Homo sapiens: one gene and its partner. Changing the gene in region 1 together with any one later gene gives a genetic interaction. Each region holds a gene or a part of one and is shown on either strand. Other genes may lie near its edges. The genes, in order: SLC35C1 and TRPC6.

Region 1 (4,302 bases):
CAGGTCCTGGGCTGGCAGAGAGCGTCCACCTCCCTGGCCCCTGTCCCAGTCAGGCACGCCCGTGAATGCACCATTCTCAGAACCTCACCACTGGTTACTTGGATTACCTTTGGGATTTGGGCCCAGTTACCCTAGTGTCTTCACCTTCCTGCAAGCAAATTCTCCAACTAGGAGCCTCTACCCCTGAGGCCACTCCTGGCAGGGTCAGCAGGAATGAAGTAGAGAGCCCTGGGGCATCTGAGGAGGACAGGGAGGAGGGGAGGTACACCTGTTCCCTGGAGAGGGAAATGGAAGCAGGCTGGGAGAGTTCTGGCAGGGGGGGTCTTGCAGCTTCCCCTACTCTAACTGTGACCTTCTCCCTTCTCCCCTCTTGGACTTAGACCCAGCAGCCCTAGATCCAGCAGCTGCTCAACAAGGGGAAACATTTTCTAGGACAGGTGGCATGGGATGGGTCCCTTCCCCCACCAACCGGTGCATCTAGCCTGGGACCCTGAGCCATCAGCAAAGAATATGATATGTAGGCCAAATAAGATAAACTTTATAGCACCAGGAAAAACCAGCATAGGTTCAAATGAAGACCCCATTCCTAGATGACGCAGCCCTGGGAAGACTCGGAGGGAATGGGATGCTGGAGGCTCTCTAACGCAGCATGGGGCCCAGTAAAATATGGGCCCATCTAACCTGTGCTGTCCCATACCATAGCCCTCAGCCACATTTGGCTACTGAGCCCTTGAAATGTGGCTAGAAAATCAGGTTGTAACATCTGCAAATGAGGAAGTGAATGTTTAACATTTTGCTTAATTTTAACTAATTTAAATAAGTGGCCAATGGCTACTGCATTGAATACTGCAGTTCTAACCTCCAAGACGAGCAGAGGGGATAGAAGCACAGGCCTGGGAGTCTGGCCAATCTGGGTTTGCATCCCAGCCTGGCTGCTTGCTAGCTGTGTGGCCGTGGGCAAGTAATGTAACATCTCTGAGCCTCAGTTTCCTTGTTTGTATAGAGATGACCGCTGGTAGTGATGCCACAACCCAGGGGATCTCTGGGAGAACAAAGGAGATGCTATATGTGAAATAATTAGCATAATTTCCCCATCAATAATTATTATTTTCTGAGGGTCAAGTCCAGGAAGACAGCTGAGGCCTCTCAAAGCATATTGCTTGCTACTGTCTCAGGCGCTATCCTGAGCTGGCAGAGAGTGATGGTATATTTATTAAAAGACGTATTGTCCTCTACTAAGAGCACTGGCTGGGAAATCAGGACACCTGAGCTCTTGAGAAACAATAAAGTACAGTGGTCGGGCATGTGAACTGTGAAGCCAGATTGCTTGAGTTCAGATCCCAGCTCTGCCACTTATTAGCTGGGTGATCTTGGACAAGTTAGTTAACTTCTCTGTGCCTTGGTTTTTCCCTCTGTAAAATGTGGATTATAATCCCATCTTGTTATGAAGATTAGCTGAGTTAATATGGCTAAGATCCATGTGCCTGGCACATTTTAATCACTCAACAAATGTCAGTTGCTTTTGCTGCTGTTGTTACTATTATTATTACTATTGTTCTTGCCCCGGCTGGGCTCCTAACTTGCTGGGTGACCTTTAGTAAGTTACTTGCTCTCTCTGTGCCCCCAGGCTCTTTCTCCTATGACTGCTGCACCAAAGGAGCTGGGACAGATGAAGTCCTAGGATGCCTAGAAGAGTTGTTCTTCACTGCTTCAGTCCCCATGACCACTCTATCCCCCGTGGCCCCAGCTGCCACTCACCGATGATGATACCGCAGGTGAGCAGGGCATAGAAGGAGGTGGTCTGCTTGAGCAGCAGGTAGGAGAGCAGCACGTTGAAGACGGTGGTGAGTGAGCGGCCCACATTGTAGAAGGCCACACCGACGTACTTGAGGCAGAGGTTATTGAAGGTGATCATGCCGATGAAGACCACCGACAGGGGCAGGACGCTGCGGGCCACCCTGAGGTCCAGGCGCAAGCTGGGGAAGTCCACGGCACCAGGGCAGCAGGCGGCCAGAGCGCTGAGGCCTTTGCACAGCAGCGTGGTCACCAGGCACTGGTAGAAGGTGACGAAGATGGGGGTGTCCAGCCGCAGGGAGGGGCTGTCCAGCAGGTACTTATTAAGGAACACCATGGAGATGGAGGTGACCCAGTAGAGGGAGACCACCAGCGCGATCTGCAATGCCCGCAGCAGAAAGGGCTTCTCCCCGTTGGCCTCTGCCTCTGCAGAGGGGTCTGAGGCCCCGGTCAGCGCCATGTGCAGGATCCTGGACCGCTTCAGAGGGGCCCTATTCATGGTAGCAGAGGAGCTGGGTCACCCCGCGGCCAGAACTCTGATTCCCTGGAGTCCAGGGCAGTGAGCTCACTTGTGCTCTCCGCAAGGAAGCCGCAGCCCTCCATTGTCACATGTGGGCTGGCCTAAAGGCCTCCCCATTGTCCTCATGGATTGAGAAGTTCTGCTTTGGGGTGAGCCCAGTTGTGCTGCTCCACAACCTACTCCCACCCCGAGGGGGCTCTGAGACAAGACACAGGGCAAGGGAGAGGAATAGGATAAGGCGGTGAGGCCAGGACAGAGAAGACCTGTGAGGGGAGAAGAGGCTGGGGCCTAACAGGGAGGGGTCGCAGAGAGAAGGGAGGGGAGAGGAATGGCAGGGCGGGGCAGGAGTAGGTACGCGGGGCGAAGGTGCAGGAAAAGGACGCGTGGCAGAGTGGGAAGAGGTGCCGAGAGGGCGTCATGGGCGGCTGTGGGAGGGAGGGGCGGGCAGGGGGAGGGAGGCGTACAGGGAGCTGCCGGAGGCCGGGCGCGGCTGGAGGGAGGGCTGCGGAAGGGTCAGAGGGGCTCGGGGCTTGGGGCTGAAGGACGCGGGAGGGGGCTGGGCCGGCGCCCACGTCTCGCTGCCTTCCCGGGCTCTGTCGCCGGCTCAGCCCAGGAGCCTCCGGACATCCGAGGCCGACTCCCCGGGAGGCGGGCCCTGGACTCACTTCCTGACACGCCCCCACGTGGCCTTAAAGGGCCCGCACGCCCCGCCTTGCCCTTAAAGCGACAGCCCCAGAGAGGCGGAGTTCGCCAGTCCCCAGCCCCGCCCCTGCGCTCCGCTGCCCGCTGCTGGCGGGGGACCTCGGCAGCCACAGGTTTTTCTGGGTGCTTGAGCCTCGCCCTGCTTCCTGGAAGGGCTCCATCAACCTCGCCTGCCCACCCTCAGCTCCGTCCGCCCCGGAGCCTCCGTCCCCCGACTTGGCTAGGCTTGGCTCGCAGGTCCACTTCCCGGAACCCCGACCCAGGACCCGGGCGGCGCTACATCAGCCTGGACCCCTCCACCTCCGGAGACTCGCGTTGCAGCCCCGCGTCCCTCTGCCAATCCGAGCTCACTCTTCCATAACAATGTTGTGGTCCCCTCCTTTCCCCCCATTTTCACCGCCCCCAGGCCCTCTCCCAAGCCCGAGACCCCCGGCAGCGCTCCCCGAGGCCGGAGGCCACGCCGCCTCTCTCGGACTTCAGTTTGTCCTCCCTGTGCTCCTGTCGAGGTCCTCTGGGCGGCCCGGATCCGAGATTCCAAAGGCTCAAGACAGCATCTCTTACCCCTTCCAGAAAATACTGTTTCCCCGGCCGGTCCAGCCGCATCAGCTCCCGCGTCCCTGCCTGTGTCCCCGGGCCGCGAAGGCGACCTGGCGCTCACCTCCTCCGGTGCACTGGGCGCCCGCCCCGCGACCCCGTGCTGCATCTGCAGCGCCGCACCCTGGGCCGCGCCCGCGGGATCGACTTCCTGCTTTCCGCCCCGGGCCCGGGCACCTTGCCAGCCTCGCCGGCCTGTTCGCGGCATGGGCCCCGGGGGTGCCGGCGGAGAGGCGGTGATCCGGACGGTCGTGGGAGGAGGCCCTCTCCTCTTTCCAAGGCTACTCCTGTCCCTGGTACCCCCGCCCGCCCGGGACCCGGCTTCAGTTACCGCAGCTGGCACGTCCCGGGACTTGGCTGTATCCCTGGCCCGCCGCGCTACCGGCTTGCACTTCCAGAAGTGCGTGCGGGGACCGCTCGGATTCTTCCAGCTGGCAGTGAGGGGGAGGGTTCCCCGCCCCTTCCAGGGCCGGGGCCTGGGAAGTCTAGCCTGTGGTCTGCCACTCACCAGGCAGCCGGGGAGACCAGGAGGATCGACTTCTCTTGGTTCGCGCTCTAGCACCTGCGTTGGGCAGGCCACTTTCTCCGACGGCCTGAGTTATCTTCATGGTAAAACTAAGGGGCTAGGCTTGACCTGTGGGTCCCAACCTTCTTGCCCAGAACTCTAGGTGGTATGGTCGAACATAGATGTT
Region 2 (4,256 bases), about 56 Mb from region 1:
AAGATGAAGCCGACTGCGACGTGAAGGTAGGATTTAAAGCCAGTGGTCTTGAGACTTTTCCCATGCTTATGACCATCTTTTGGCGATGTGCCTGTAATGAAGCTCTTATCAGAATTTTAAAAGCTTTCTTAAAATGCGTTTAATTTCCTTTTTCATCTTCCAACTTAGAAGAAATGCCAATTATTCTAAGTTGGAAGATGAAATTCGAAGAGATGTCAATTCAGTTGCACTTTGATGAAAATCTGACTTCAGGACATTAGTTTGAACCATAAGAGCCACCAGGAGGGTAGTGCCTTTTGCTGAGGAACCCACAGTCATGCCTGTTGAGTTTCCCAAAACTTATATCTTGTCAAGTCAATCCAACTTAAAAGACACTGAGGAATCTGAATATCTTTTCTTGAGTCTTCTGGAGTCAAGACCATGTGCTGTCATAGAGCATCCTTGGGATGAAGGTCCATCTCTCGCATGGCACAACACACACTTTTTTGTGGATGTTAGATTATTTTAATTTGCTGATAGTGCATTCAGTATGAGGTTGATTTTTTACAACTGCTGATTCAAATACTGTCACAAAATATTTGAAAATCGATCTTTATGTATCACCAAGTAACTTTTCCATAAGTAGTATCCACAAATACAAAATCACTGAATATAAATTTTCAGCTGTATTTTCTGATCTGGTTACATAAATGTTCTTTGATTTAAATTAAGCCAAAGTTGGAGCTAAACAGATTTTCTGCAACCATTTCATCTTTAAGATGAAGTTAAAGATTTGCATTTGAAATCTCCCATTATTGAATTGGAAGTAGCAGTTCCAGTTAATGTCCAGCATCCTCTGAATGCCAATGGTCTTTGAGTAAACATATGAACCTTCATCGCTTTTAGTTGTTTAAGACACCACTTCACATGATCAGTAAGTAACAACAACAACCTCTTGGTAAATGCACATGAATGCAAATTCCTGTTTTATATATTTGGGTAGAAGGATAGAACATATTGAAAATAACAGATAAGTATTTACAAATTCTCACCTTATTTTTCCCCTTTACATTCAATGGCTAAGTGTGGGGATTCATCTGTAAATGCTCCCAGAAATGGCACAAAATTGTGCTATAATGGAACCAAACAACCACAGTGTTTGTTTGGGGTTTTGATTTTTCTCCAATAAAAGGTACTTATTTAGACAGTAAAATTTTTTAGTGACAATAAAAATTTATAACATAAAGAGCTTTTGTGTGTCCACATTAGCCACAAACTAGGGCAAGTACTTTATGTCTGTGTGTACACATTTACACACACGCACACACACAAAACTGGACCATGTTTCCAGGGTTCAGTGGAGGAAAAACTTTTTTCATTGTTAAGTGTAATGTTTTCAAATAGATGAATCAGAAAATTTTACATAGATGTAAGACCATTTTGTATGAACGGTATCAATCATGTGCATTGAGGGATAAGTAGGGTAAATGGTGTTTAAACAGCATTCTAAAGAAAGGATTAAAGCATTCTAAAGGCCCATGGGCTACTTTTTCCCAAATTTCAGAGCTGGGAGTCCCCAGCAGGGGATCCACAGAGCAGGCAAGAAGGAACCTGAAATAAACTTCAGAGGAAAAACCGCATGGGGAGTAACGTGGGTCAGCCCCTGTCCGCTGGGACCCATTTTCAGGCAGACACTACATGGCAATGACATCATCACAAGAGTTAGTTATATCCAAGAAAGCAGTTTATAAAACAAGCACCAAACAACTGGGCATAATTTTCCTCATTATCTACAGCCTTTACCCTGAACAATGGAGTTTAATCACCAAAAAAATTAGATACTAGGGCTCCAGATGATAGGATGGCCCAAGTTATTTAACGTTTTCTTGTTTAAAAGGTGGGCCCATTGGCACTTAAGAAAATAAATCAGAAAATAATATGGCTTCAAGTGGACAAATAAATATGAATTTCTAAGGAAGTCTTCGCATTATCTATTGGTTTCCTCTTGATTTGGTTCCATGGATAATTTCTCTCCAAGTTCTCTAATAAGTTCTGCTAGGTCTTCTGTATTCTGAGATTTTTCTTCAAGGAGTTCATAGCGGAGACTTGAGATGTCCTGCTTAATTTCCTTCAGTTCCCCTTTGAAAGCAAGAGTGATAAGAAGTCAACTATAAATACGCAATGCGGAAAAACTAGTGACTGTGGGACAGGAGGAAATCAGCTCTAATTTCACACACAATTTTATTTTGAATCCTTTGAAAGGAAATAACTTCCTAATTGAGCAGGTTTTTGTTTTCTTAGCTAAGTGTTTTTGTGAATGAAGAGATTATAGCAGAATGATAACAAAAGCCCTCCTAAAGTAAGTTAAAACAAAAAGGTGGTGAATGATTCAGGGGTTGAGGCAGCAGCCCCTTCCTTGCCTTTCCCACCCACTTCCTCCTCCCTCCAAGTCCACCATAAGAATGAGAGCTTTTTATCTAGCAAGTGGCACCTGTCCCCGCCTGTGGAGACATAGCCTGTTCCCCACTCTTTAACAGAACGGCGGTTGGTGAGATCCTGTTCTACTTTTCCCCTTGAAGTTCACTCTCCCTGTACGCATCTCTGCAGCTCTCCAGGCACTCTGCGCTAGGCCCCCGTCCTGACTCACATTCAGGGGCTGATTTGCTTCTGCGTTCAACTCACCTTCGTTCACTTCATCACTCTCCTTATCTATCTGGGCCTGCAGTACATATCTTTTAATGAGCCTTTTCATTATTTTCTAGAAAACAGAGAAAGGAGAAATCTATGTCAGTTTCAGGTTCATGACAAATCTCTCATTTGGAACAAGTTTCAGAGTCTTCCTCCCTGTAGTGAGCCCTTTGGAAGTGATGGCTGTCAAGGACTAAGATGATTCAGCCAGGATGCAGGCGATCTCTACATTTTGCTTTCCTTTTTAAAGCAGTTTTCACATCACCTAGGCTAATGACTCAAAAGTGAGTTCTTAGAAAAGAATGTTTAGAGCAAGTATGAAATCCTTTATGTCCATTGCTTGTATTTTATTTGAAAAGTATTAGAGTAAGACAGTCTTTCAGTGGGGTAGGTAAAAGATGTACACTACTGCTCGTGGAAATGGGAAATTAAGCTAATGTCTGCTCATTTAAGCCCCACGTCTGACCCACCAAAAAATGGAACCAATTTTTATTTTAAACTTTCTATTAATTTAGGAATGCTAGTTTCAATGTAATATATTTTTCAAGTACCTGGGCTTCTATCATGCAAACATTGCTTTTATTATATATTTTTCATAAAAAGAAGGAGTCTTAGTGGGTGCTCAGAAAGTCTTGATGGATATAGAACTAAATAAAATTTTACACCTAAGCCAAGGTTAAATGGTAGATAGTAAAACTCTACCTTCAAGAATCTATTCTAAAGATATGATTTAGTACATTAACAAGTATGTTCATAGAACTAGTTATATAATAGACAAAAATGAAACTTTAAATGTTCATCAGTAAGGAATTATTTTTAGTAAATTATATATTTGTATGAAGGAATATGATACATTCACTGAAATTAATAGGAATATATATTTTGTGGAGAGAAAATCACAAGCTAAAAACTATTACTCATTATATAAGTATTAGCTGATTTATATAGTATTATATATGCATTTTATAATAATATTAAAATATATGTAAAATTATGCACATATAGGCATATAATCATCTGGCAGAATTTTCACCAAAAGCAAGCAGACTTTGTTTCTCACTGGTGGAATCTGACATGAATTTTACTGTCGTCTTTATGTTTTTTGTAAGGTTTGCCTTTTCAATGAACACTCTCTTTTTTAATGGAGACTTTCAGATCTGTGATTCCAATACTTTATTTTTTTTAACTTATATATCTCTGTCACTTACAAAATGCCTGGTACATGGTAATTAATAAATATTTATTGAATTAATGCATTATTTGATATTGAGAAAAATATCCTGATACTTTAAAGAATCACATAGTTCAAGAACCTAAATATTACAAGTAACTAGTTTTATTCCTTTAAAAATCCATGCTTACCTGATATTGTCTTGGAGGATTATTGAAACTATTTAGATGGAAATCTTCTGAGCTCCTTATACTTGGTTGTTTATTGTGCCCAACCTGTAATTTGAAAAGATTTAGAAATGGATTCCTACTTACATTTTCTTTTAAATAAAGTAGTGAGATTAGTTATCTAATGAACTAATAGTCTTACATACACAAATTATCTATATGTATAGTGCCATTTATCTTGCTTAGTATTC

What was found.
Region 2: changes in SLC35C1 (region 1) and TRPC6 together harm fitness less than expected from each alone (positive genetic interaction), as found in Homo sapiens cells (one large-scale study listed by BioGRID).

Annotation. Positions count from the first base shown.
Region 1 is NC_000011.10:45,803,793-45,808,094, reverse strand, and holds the start of SLC35C1 (GDP-fucose transporter 1), read right to left. Parts: upstream 2,947-4,302; 5' UTR 2,294-2,946; coding exon 1,759-2,293; intron 1-1,758. UniProt on the Homo sapiens protein: Antiporter specific for GDP-l-fucose and depending on the concomitant reverse transport of GMP. Involved in GDP-fucose import from the cytoplasm into the Golgi lumen.
Region 2 is NC_000011.10:101,450,989-101,455,244, forward strand, and holds the end of TRPC6 (short transient receptor potential channel 6), read right to left. Parts: intron 4,118-4,256; coding exon of another isoform or gene 4,114-4,117; coding exon 4,030-4,113; intron 2,738-4,029; coding exon 2,662-2,737; intron 2,119-2,661; coding exon 1,967-2,118; 3' UTR 576-1,966; downstream 1-575. UniProt on the Homo sapiens protein: Forms a receptor-activated non-selective calcium permeant cation channel. Probably is operated by a phosphatidylinositol second messenger system activated by receptor tyrosine kinases or G-protein coupled receptors.